Linked DNA regions of Homo sapiens. The protein of the gene in region 1 interacts with the protein of each later gene in a pairwise test. Each region holds a gene or a part of one and is shown on either strand. Other genes may lie near its edges.

Evidence for each region.
Region 2: the proteins of DRAM1 (region 1) and TIMMDC1 interact in binary tests that used the Homo sapiens proteins (3 or more experiments, as listed by UniProt).

Annotation. Positions count from the first base shown.
Region 1 is NC_000012.12:101,915,259-101,919,079, forward strand, and holds part of DRAM1 (DNA damage-regulated autophagy modulator protein 1), read left to right. Parts: intron 1-3,821. UniProt on the Homo sapiens protein: Lysosomal modulator of autophagy that plays a central role in p53/TP53-mediated apoptosis. Not involved in p73/TP73-mediated autophagy.
Region 2 is NC_000003.12:119,511,726-119,515,546, forward strand, and holds part of TIMMDC1 (complex I assembly factor TIMMDC1, mitochondrial isoform 1 precursor), read left to right. Parts: intron 1-1,915; coding exon 1,916-1,994; intron 1,995-3,821.

The DNA.
Region 1 (3,821 bases):
GTGAGCCACCGCACCTGGCCTTTAATTTCTTTCTTAAACACTTCAACTATCTATCTTTAGTAAAAGAGGGTAGAGGGACAGTGTGAATGAAGGTGTTTGGTGGTGAAAGGGAGCGTGGAATGTTAAGTAGAGAGGATGATACCAGCTCCAGTGTGGTGGATAGTTCATTTCAGGATAGAGTGAGAAATCACTGCAGCCGGGGATAACTGTGCAAGGGTGTAGTGGCTGTAAGAGGCAGGCAGAGAGGCTTGTACTTGGCCTAGGTGACCAGAGTAAGACTTTGAAGACTTTTTTTTTTTTTGAGACGGAGTTTCGCCCTTGTTGCCTAGGCTGGAGTGCAATGGCGCGATCTCGGCTCACTGCAACCTCTGCCTCTCAGGTTCAAGCAGTTCTCCTGTCTCAGCCTCCCAAATAGCTGGGATTACAGGCACTAGCTGGGATTACAGGCGTGCACCACCATGCCCAGCTAGTTTTTGTATTTTTAGTAGAGACGGGATTTCACCGTGTTAGCCAGGATGGTCTTGATCTCTGCACCTCGTGATCTGCCCTCCTTGGCCTCCTAAAGTGCTGGGATTACAGGCGTGAACCACCACGCCCAACCTGCAGACTTTCGAACGGTAAAGCAAATAGAAAGAGTATTATTAGATGAGTGTTAGACAGAAGCAATGCCTGGGATGGCTTGGAGAGCTTGGCATTAGGAGGGCAAGGAGAAGGCAGTTCTACTAGTTCACGTTTCAAATAGGGGAAATCTGATGGGTGTTGGCAAATGATTAACACAAGAATGAAGTGGCATGATGAATCAAAGATGACTTCTAAGTTTTTATCTTAGGTGAACCAAAGAATTTATTCCCTTGACCAGAAATAAGGCCCCTAACAGGGATAAATAATTTAGTAGGTGGAAGTGGATGAGTTTGGTTAGAGTTGATGATTCTGAGGATATGATGAGATATCGAGGTTAGAAACATGGGCCTAGGCCAGGTGCTGTGGTTCATGCCTGTAATCCCAGCACTTTGGGAGGCTGAGGCAGGAGGATTGCTTGAGTCCAGGAGATGAAGACCAGTCAGGGTAACACAGTAAGATCCTGCCTCTACAAAAATTAGCCAGACGTTGTGGCATGCGCCTGTAGTCCCAGCTACTTGGGAAGCTGAGGTGGAAGGATCACTTGCACTCCGGTGGGCCTAGACTTCTGGTGGGACTGGGAGTCGTCAGAGTGTAGGGTAGAGTTGTTAGAGTATGGGGTAGACCAGGACATTTTGGACCAAGCATCAGAACACATGGAACCAAATGTTTGACATTGAGATCAACCCATCCTGTTAGATACCTGTAGTAGTGGTTCATCTAGACGCCTTATAGGAGAATCAAGGATGCCCCAGGAAAGAAGAGAGTTAGTGAGAGACAGAGGATTCTTTCCCCCAAGGATCAGGTGGAAGAATACCTCCAGCAAAGGAGAAGTAAAGGGATCATGGACCAGAGAGAAGAACTAGACTTGTGCTGTATGGTAGACCTCATTGATGAGTCCCTACCACATGCAAGACTGTGAAAGATTATAGAGGGCAGGGTGGCCATGGGATAGAGGATCCTGAGGGATTTTATAGTTCAGAGGGGCAAACAGCCAGTTGTCAATGGCTAAATGTAATACTTTGAAGAATAAAAAAATGCTGAACTGGACTTCAGACAACACATTGTGGAAATGCAGAAGCAATAGCAATTAATCCTAACGATGGAATGAGAGGAGATACGATCCCAGAGACTAAAGGACATTTTTCAAAGGCAAGGGAAATGGCTAACTATGGCATATGCAGCTGAATAGCCTTTAGGAATGAAGTCCCTCAATTTGGGCAATAAGGGAGTCAGTGATGTTTGTCAAAAAGTAGTTTCAGTAAAACGCCGAGGTTAGAAGCCAATGGCAAGAAGTTAAATAGTGAGAGGGATGGTTCTTTCATTCAGCTATCAACCAAATGTTTATTGAGTCCTGTTCTGGACTGGAGGTAAGAGGTAAAGGAGGAACACCAGGGTGGCTAGAGGAGACAGCAGGATTTCCCAATATGGAGAACTCTGGCAGGTAATGGAAGCCTGCCAAGACAAGAGAGAGACAGAAGATGGTGAGGAAGAGAATGATCCAGACAGGAGATCAAAAAGTGCTTCTTGGCCGGGTGCGGTGGCTCAGGCCTGTAATTCCAACACTTTGGGAGGCCAAGGCGGGTGGATCACTTGAGGCTAGAGTTCAAAACTAGCCTGGCCAATATGGCGAAACCCTGTCTGTACTAAAAAAAAAAAAAATTTTTGGTGTAGTGGCACACACCTGTAGTCCCAGCTACTTGGGAGGCTGAGGCAGGAGAATTGCTTGTACCCAGGAGTTGGAGAGCTGGAGGCTGCAATGAGCCGAGATCATGCCAATGCACTCCAGCCTGTGCAACAAGAGTGAGACTCCATCTCAAAAAAAAAAAAAAAAGCCTTCTTTAAAATCTAACCTTAAAATGGTCAAATTCGTCAATAGGTTAGACCTAGGCAAAAGGCAGGTTTTTTTCTTTCTTATATATGGGGAATTAGCCCCATCATGCGAAGGGGGTTCAGTTCCTCTTTCCGTTGGAGAGAACCTCTTTCTGAAAGTGAGACCGCATAGCGGAGCAGTTCAGGTGTACTTTACTTTTCAGCCACTCGGGGGAGACCTTCTATCACAAACCCGCTGCTGGGAAGGGCTTATCGAAGTATATTCCCAGGCAGTTAAAAATCTGTTATATTCCACTTTCTATCTTAAAAATGTGAAAAGCACATGGTTTTCTATTCACTCCATAAATGACTGCGCCACTCTTGCATTTCCTTCTGTTCCTAATATCAAAGGATGTAAAAAAATTTCCCTTTACATTAATTCACTGAATAATCATTTAGGTACTGCCTCAAACTTCTGTGTAGTGCTTTACAGCTTTCACAGCACATTTATATGCAGTGACTTACTTGGTAGGGGGAGGTGAGAATTATAATGTCACTGTCTCATTTCACATAGCAAGGATATTAGGGCTTTGCCTGCATTCAGGACTCTTGGTTCCATGTACTTTCACTAATATCATGCTTAAGAAATTCCCCCCAAAGTTCTGCCTTTATTTTTAGAAGCCATCTTCCTTGTTCAGGGATGATACGGGATGTGGCAGGTCCCCTGGTACTGGTACCAGAAGGAGGAAGCCTCTGTTCTGTATCTCCTACTGTAGGCTGGTCAGGTCCTCCTCGGTGTGACCTAGCATGAAAACAGTGGGTGAGTGTGACCATGACAAGGAGAGTGAAGAGTGACGCTCGGAGGGCTTGGTGTGCCTCCACTCGATCTGTCTGGATGAAAACAGGATCAAAGAAAACAACTGTCACCATGGAGCTGCCCTGTGATCCAGCACATTTACTTACCCTTGTAGCCTACAGCAGTTTGGGGTAGAAGAGCAGTGGGCTCAGCCCTCAACAGCACATGCCAAGGGCAGAGCAGCCCATGTATGCAGCTTCAGAAGGCATGGGGGTGTAGGGAGTTAGGGGTAGTTGCTCATTTCAGCAGAGCAGAAAGTGACGTAGGAAATCAGAGGGGGCACACTGACAGTCCCCAGGCCTCATTTGGCATGTGAGCTAACATCAGAATGCAGACATGCATATTTGACTCAGAGTTTTATTTATTTTTATTTTATTATTATTATTATTATTTTTGAGACAGAGTCTTGCTCTGTCACCCAGGTTGGAGTAGAGTGACGCAATCATGGTTCACTGCAACCTCTATCCCCCAGGCTCAAGTGATCCTCCCAGTTCAGCCTCCCAAGTAGCTGGGACTGCAGGCGCAGGCCACCCCA
Region 2 (3,821 bases), on another chromosome or scaffold:
GAAAGGATAGCTCAGTTGAAGACTGGACAAAGGACATGAATTTGTAATTCACAGACGTACCACAAATAACTTGTAAACCTAGGGAAAAACAACTTTTTTCTACTAATCAGAGAAATGCAACTTAAAAATTACATACCACTTCTGGCCTATCAAATTGGAAAAAATAAACTAAGAGAATGCAGAAGACTAGATTACTTGCATACTTTTATTTGGAAAATAAGTTTATGCATCCTTTTTGAATAGCAGTTTAGTAATTTAAGTCAAAAGCCTTAAAAATGTTTATACTTATACCTTTTGGCCCAGAAATTTCATTTCTGTGAGTTTGTCCTAAGGAAACAATCAAATGTATAAAAAGATTATTTGTGGAGGGATTATCATCATACCTTTATTTAAAATATCTATAAATAGAAAATCTAAGTGTTAGACAAAAATTTGTGGTACCTCCATGCAATGGAACTAGGTGGGAGAAAACTCAGTGATACAGAATTTAATAATATGTTCTGTGAAAATAAAAAATTTAGTATGTACACCATGGCCCCAGTTTTTGTGTTTTTGTTTTATTTTGTTTTTTTAGACAGAGTCTTGCTCTTTTGTCCAGGCAAGAGTGCAGTGACGCGATCTCGGCTCACTGCAACCTCTGCCGCCTGGGTTCAAGTGATTCTCCTGCCTCAGCCTCCTGAGTAGCTAGGATTACAGGTGTGTGCCGCCATGCCCGGCTAATTTTTGTATTTTTAGTAGAGACGGGGTTTCAGCATCTTGGCCAGGCTGGTCTTGAATTCCTGACTTTCGTGATCCACCCGTCTCGGCCTCCTAAAGTGCTGGGATTACAGGTGTGAGCCACCGTGCCCGGCCCCAGTTGTTGTTTTTGTTTTTTGTTTTATTTTGTTTGGAGGATCAGAAAAAAAGACTAACTTATTACTGACTCTGGGTAATGGGATTAAAGGTGATTTTGATTCTTGTTAATTTTGAAAATTTTAAAAATGAATATATAGTACTTAAAAATATAAACCTCAACTGTTATTTATTTTGTTTTTTGAGACAGTCTCATTCTTCCGCTGAGGCTAGAGTGCAGGAGTGTGATATCTGCTCACTGCAGCCTCCGCCTCTGGGGTTCAAACAATTCTTGTGCCTCCGCCTCCTGAGTAGCTGGGATTACAGGCGTGCACCACAATACCCAGCTAATTTTTGTATCTTTAGTAGAGGCAGGGTTTTGCCATGTTGTCCAGGCTGACTTAGAACTCCTGACCTCAAGTGATCCGCCTGCCTTGGCCTCCCAAAGTGTTGGGATTACAGGTGTGAGCCATTGCACCTGGCTTCAAATGTTATTATTTAAAAAGTGTTACCACCTTAGATGGCATTAGTTGCATTGTGCATAGTGAAAGGAAAATGAATGAGCATGATTGATGCACAGTCCCAGCAGAAAGGAAAGAAGTCTTTCTGTGCACTGGTCACCAGGTAGCATTGTAGGCCAAATGCTGCTTGCTTGTCACCCTGCCTGAGTGGTGCCATGTAGCAGTACAGAGAGAGTGAGTCTAGGGGAAGGCATAAACTGGAGGGGCTAGTGAAGGTTTTTTGCTTTTTTATTTTCCTTGAAGAAAGAAGAAAGAAAGAGAAGGGGAAAAACATTTTCAGATTTTTAAGGAGAGATGGGCAAAAATGAAGCAGAATGAATGGATCCATAGAACATATTGAAGATTTACTTTTGTAGAAGGGATGTGTCTTCCTTTGAATCTGCAGAGTGGATGGGAAGCTACCTGTGTTGGCATTTTAGATTCAGGAAGTATAGGCTGTAGTAGTATATTAACATTGGATTCAGAAAGCTCACTTAGGGATTTCCTTTTTGTAGAAGGAAAGTTTTAAAATAGGATTCTAGTTTTAAAGATGATTTAATATTGCCTTTCTTGTTTTTAAATAGCTGTCACGGGAAGTCTTTTTAGGATAAACGTAGGCCTGCGTGGCCTGGTGGCTGGTGGCATAATTGGAGCCTTGCTGGGGTAAGCATTAACATGGTTTGGTTCTAAATTGGCACAATTTTCATTAATACCTTGCCTATTAAAAAGTCTCATTTATTTTCAAAGAACAAATTTAATCCTTAGAATCTATAAAAGATCTCTAGTCTTGCATTGGCAGTAGCTTTGACTGTCCATTCTAATTCTACCCCAATAGTTTATCTTATTTACAGTTTTTATTTATAGTTTCTTTTACTTAGTAGTTATTACAATAAATAACATTGACTCAATACAACTATCTAAGATAGGGCCCTTATTCAAAATGCCTTTTTACCAGCTAAAACTGTTTAAATATTGCTAACACCTGAAACTATAGTTCGAACACAGGTATTTATGGGAGCAGGGAAAAAAGAACAAAAAACAGTTAACAAGCATATTCTGTAAAAATTGTTAGGATTTTGTTTGTTTTGCTTAATACATTTTTAAAAAATGTTCTTCCTCAATTTTTTACTTTGAACAATTTCAAACCTACAGAAAAGTTGAATGAATTAGTACATTGAAACCCCATATACCCTTCACCTAGATTCACCAGTTGTTAACGCCTTGGTGATATTTTCCATATCTATGTATATGTGTGGGATGTGAATATATTTCTTTTTCTTTCCGTTTGCTTCTTGGCTAAACTGTTTGAGACCTCATGATACTTCACCCCCATATATATCAGCATGTATCTCCCAGGATGAAGAATACTCTTCCATGAAATCATAATACAATTATCACAGTAAACATTGTTTCAACACAACTATCTAAGTTAGGGTCTATATTAAAAACTCCTCAGTTATCATACTAATGCCCACATGTTTCTCCATTTTGTTTGATCATCCCATCATGATTAGATTAATGTATTTTTGTCAGGAATACAACATAGGTGAAGTTGTATCCTCATGTATCACATCAGGAGATATTCTGTCACCCATTATAAGTAATATTAACTTTAATTACTTGATATATTGGTTTTCTGCTGTGCAACAAATTACCACAAACTGAGCATGTATTGCATGTGAAACAACACCCTTGTAGTTCTGTAGATTATAAATCTGGCTGGGTTTCCCTGCTCAAGATTTTACAAGGCCAAAGTCAAGGTCTTGGCCGGGCTAGGCTCTTACCTGGAGGCTCTGGGGAAGAATCTGTTTCCAAGCTCATTCAGGTTGTTGACAGAATTTAGTTCCTTGTGGCCAGGCACAGTGGCTCACACCTGTAAAACCAGCAGTTTGGGAGGCCGAGGCAGGTAGATCACTTGTGATCAGGAGTTTGAGACCAGCCTGGCCAACATGGTGAAATGCTGTCTCTACTAAAAATACAAAAATTAGCCAGGTGTGGTGGCAAGCGCCTGTAATCACAGATACTCGGGAGGCTGAGGCAGGAGGATTGCTTGAACCCCATATACCCTTCACCTAGGCAGAGGCAGAGGTTGCAGTGAGCCAAGATCGCACCATTGCACTCCAGCCTGGGCAACAGAGTAAGACTCCATCTCAAAAAAAAAAAAAAAAAGAGGAAAAACTAAAAAAGAATTTACTTCCTTGTGCCTTGAGGTCTGAGGTCCCTGTTTTCCTTGCAGGCTGTCAGCCAGACTATTCTCTGTTCCTGGAGGCCACCCACATTTCTTCTCCTAGGGCCCCTTTGTGTTTAAACCAGCTACAGCACATTAACCCCTTCTCATACTTCAAATCTTTAACTTCTACTCTGCCACCAGCCAGGGAAAACTCTGCTTTTGAGTGTTCACTCAGATAGCCATCTCCTTTTTCATTATCTCAGATTCAACTAATTAGTAACCTTAATTACATTTCTGAAATCAATTTTGCCATGTAAGAT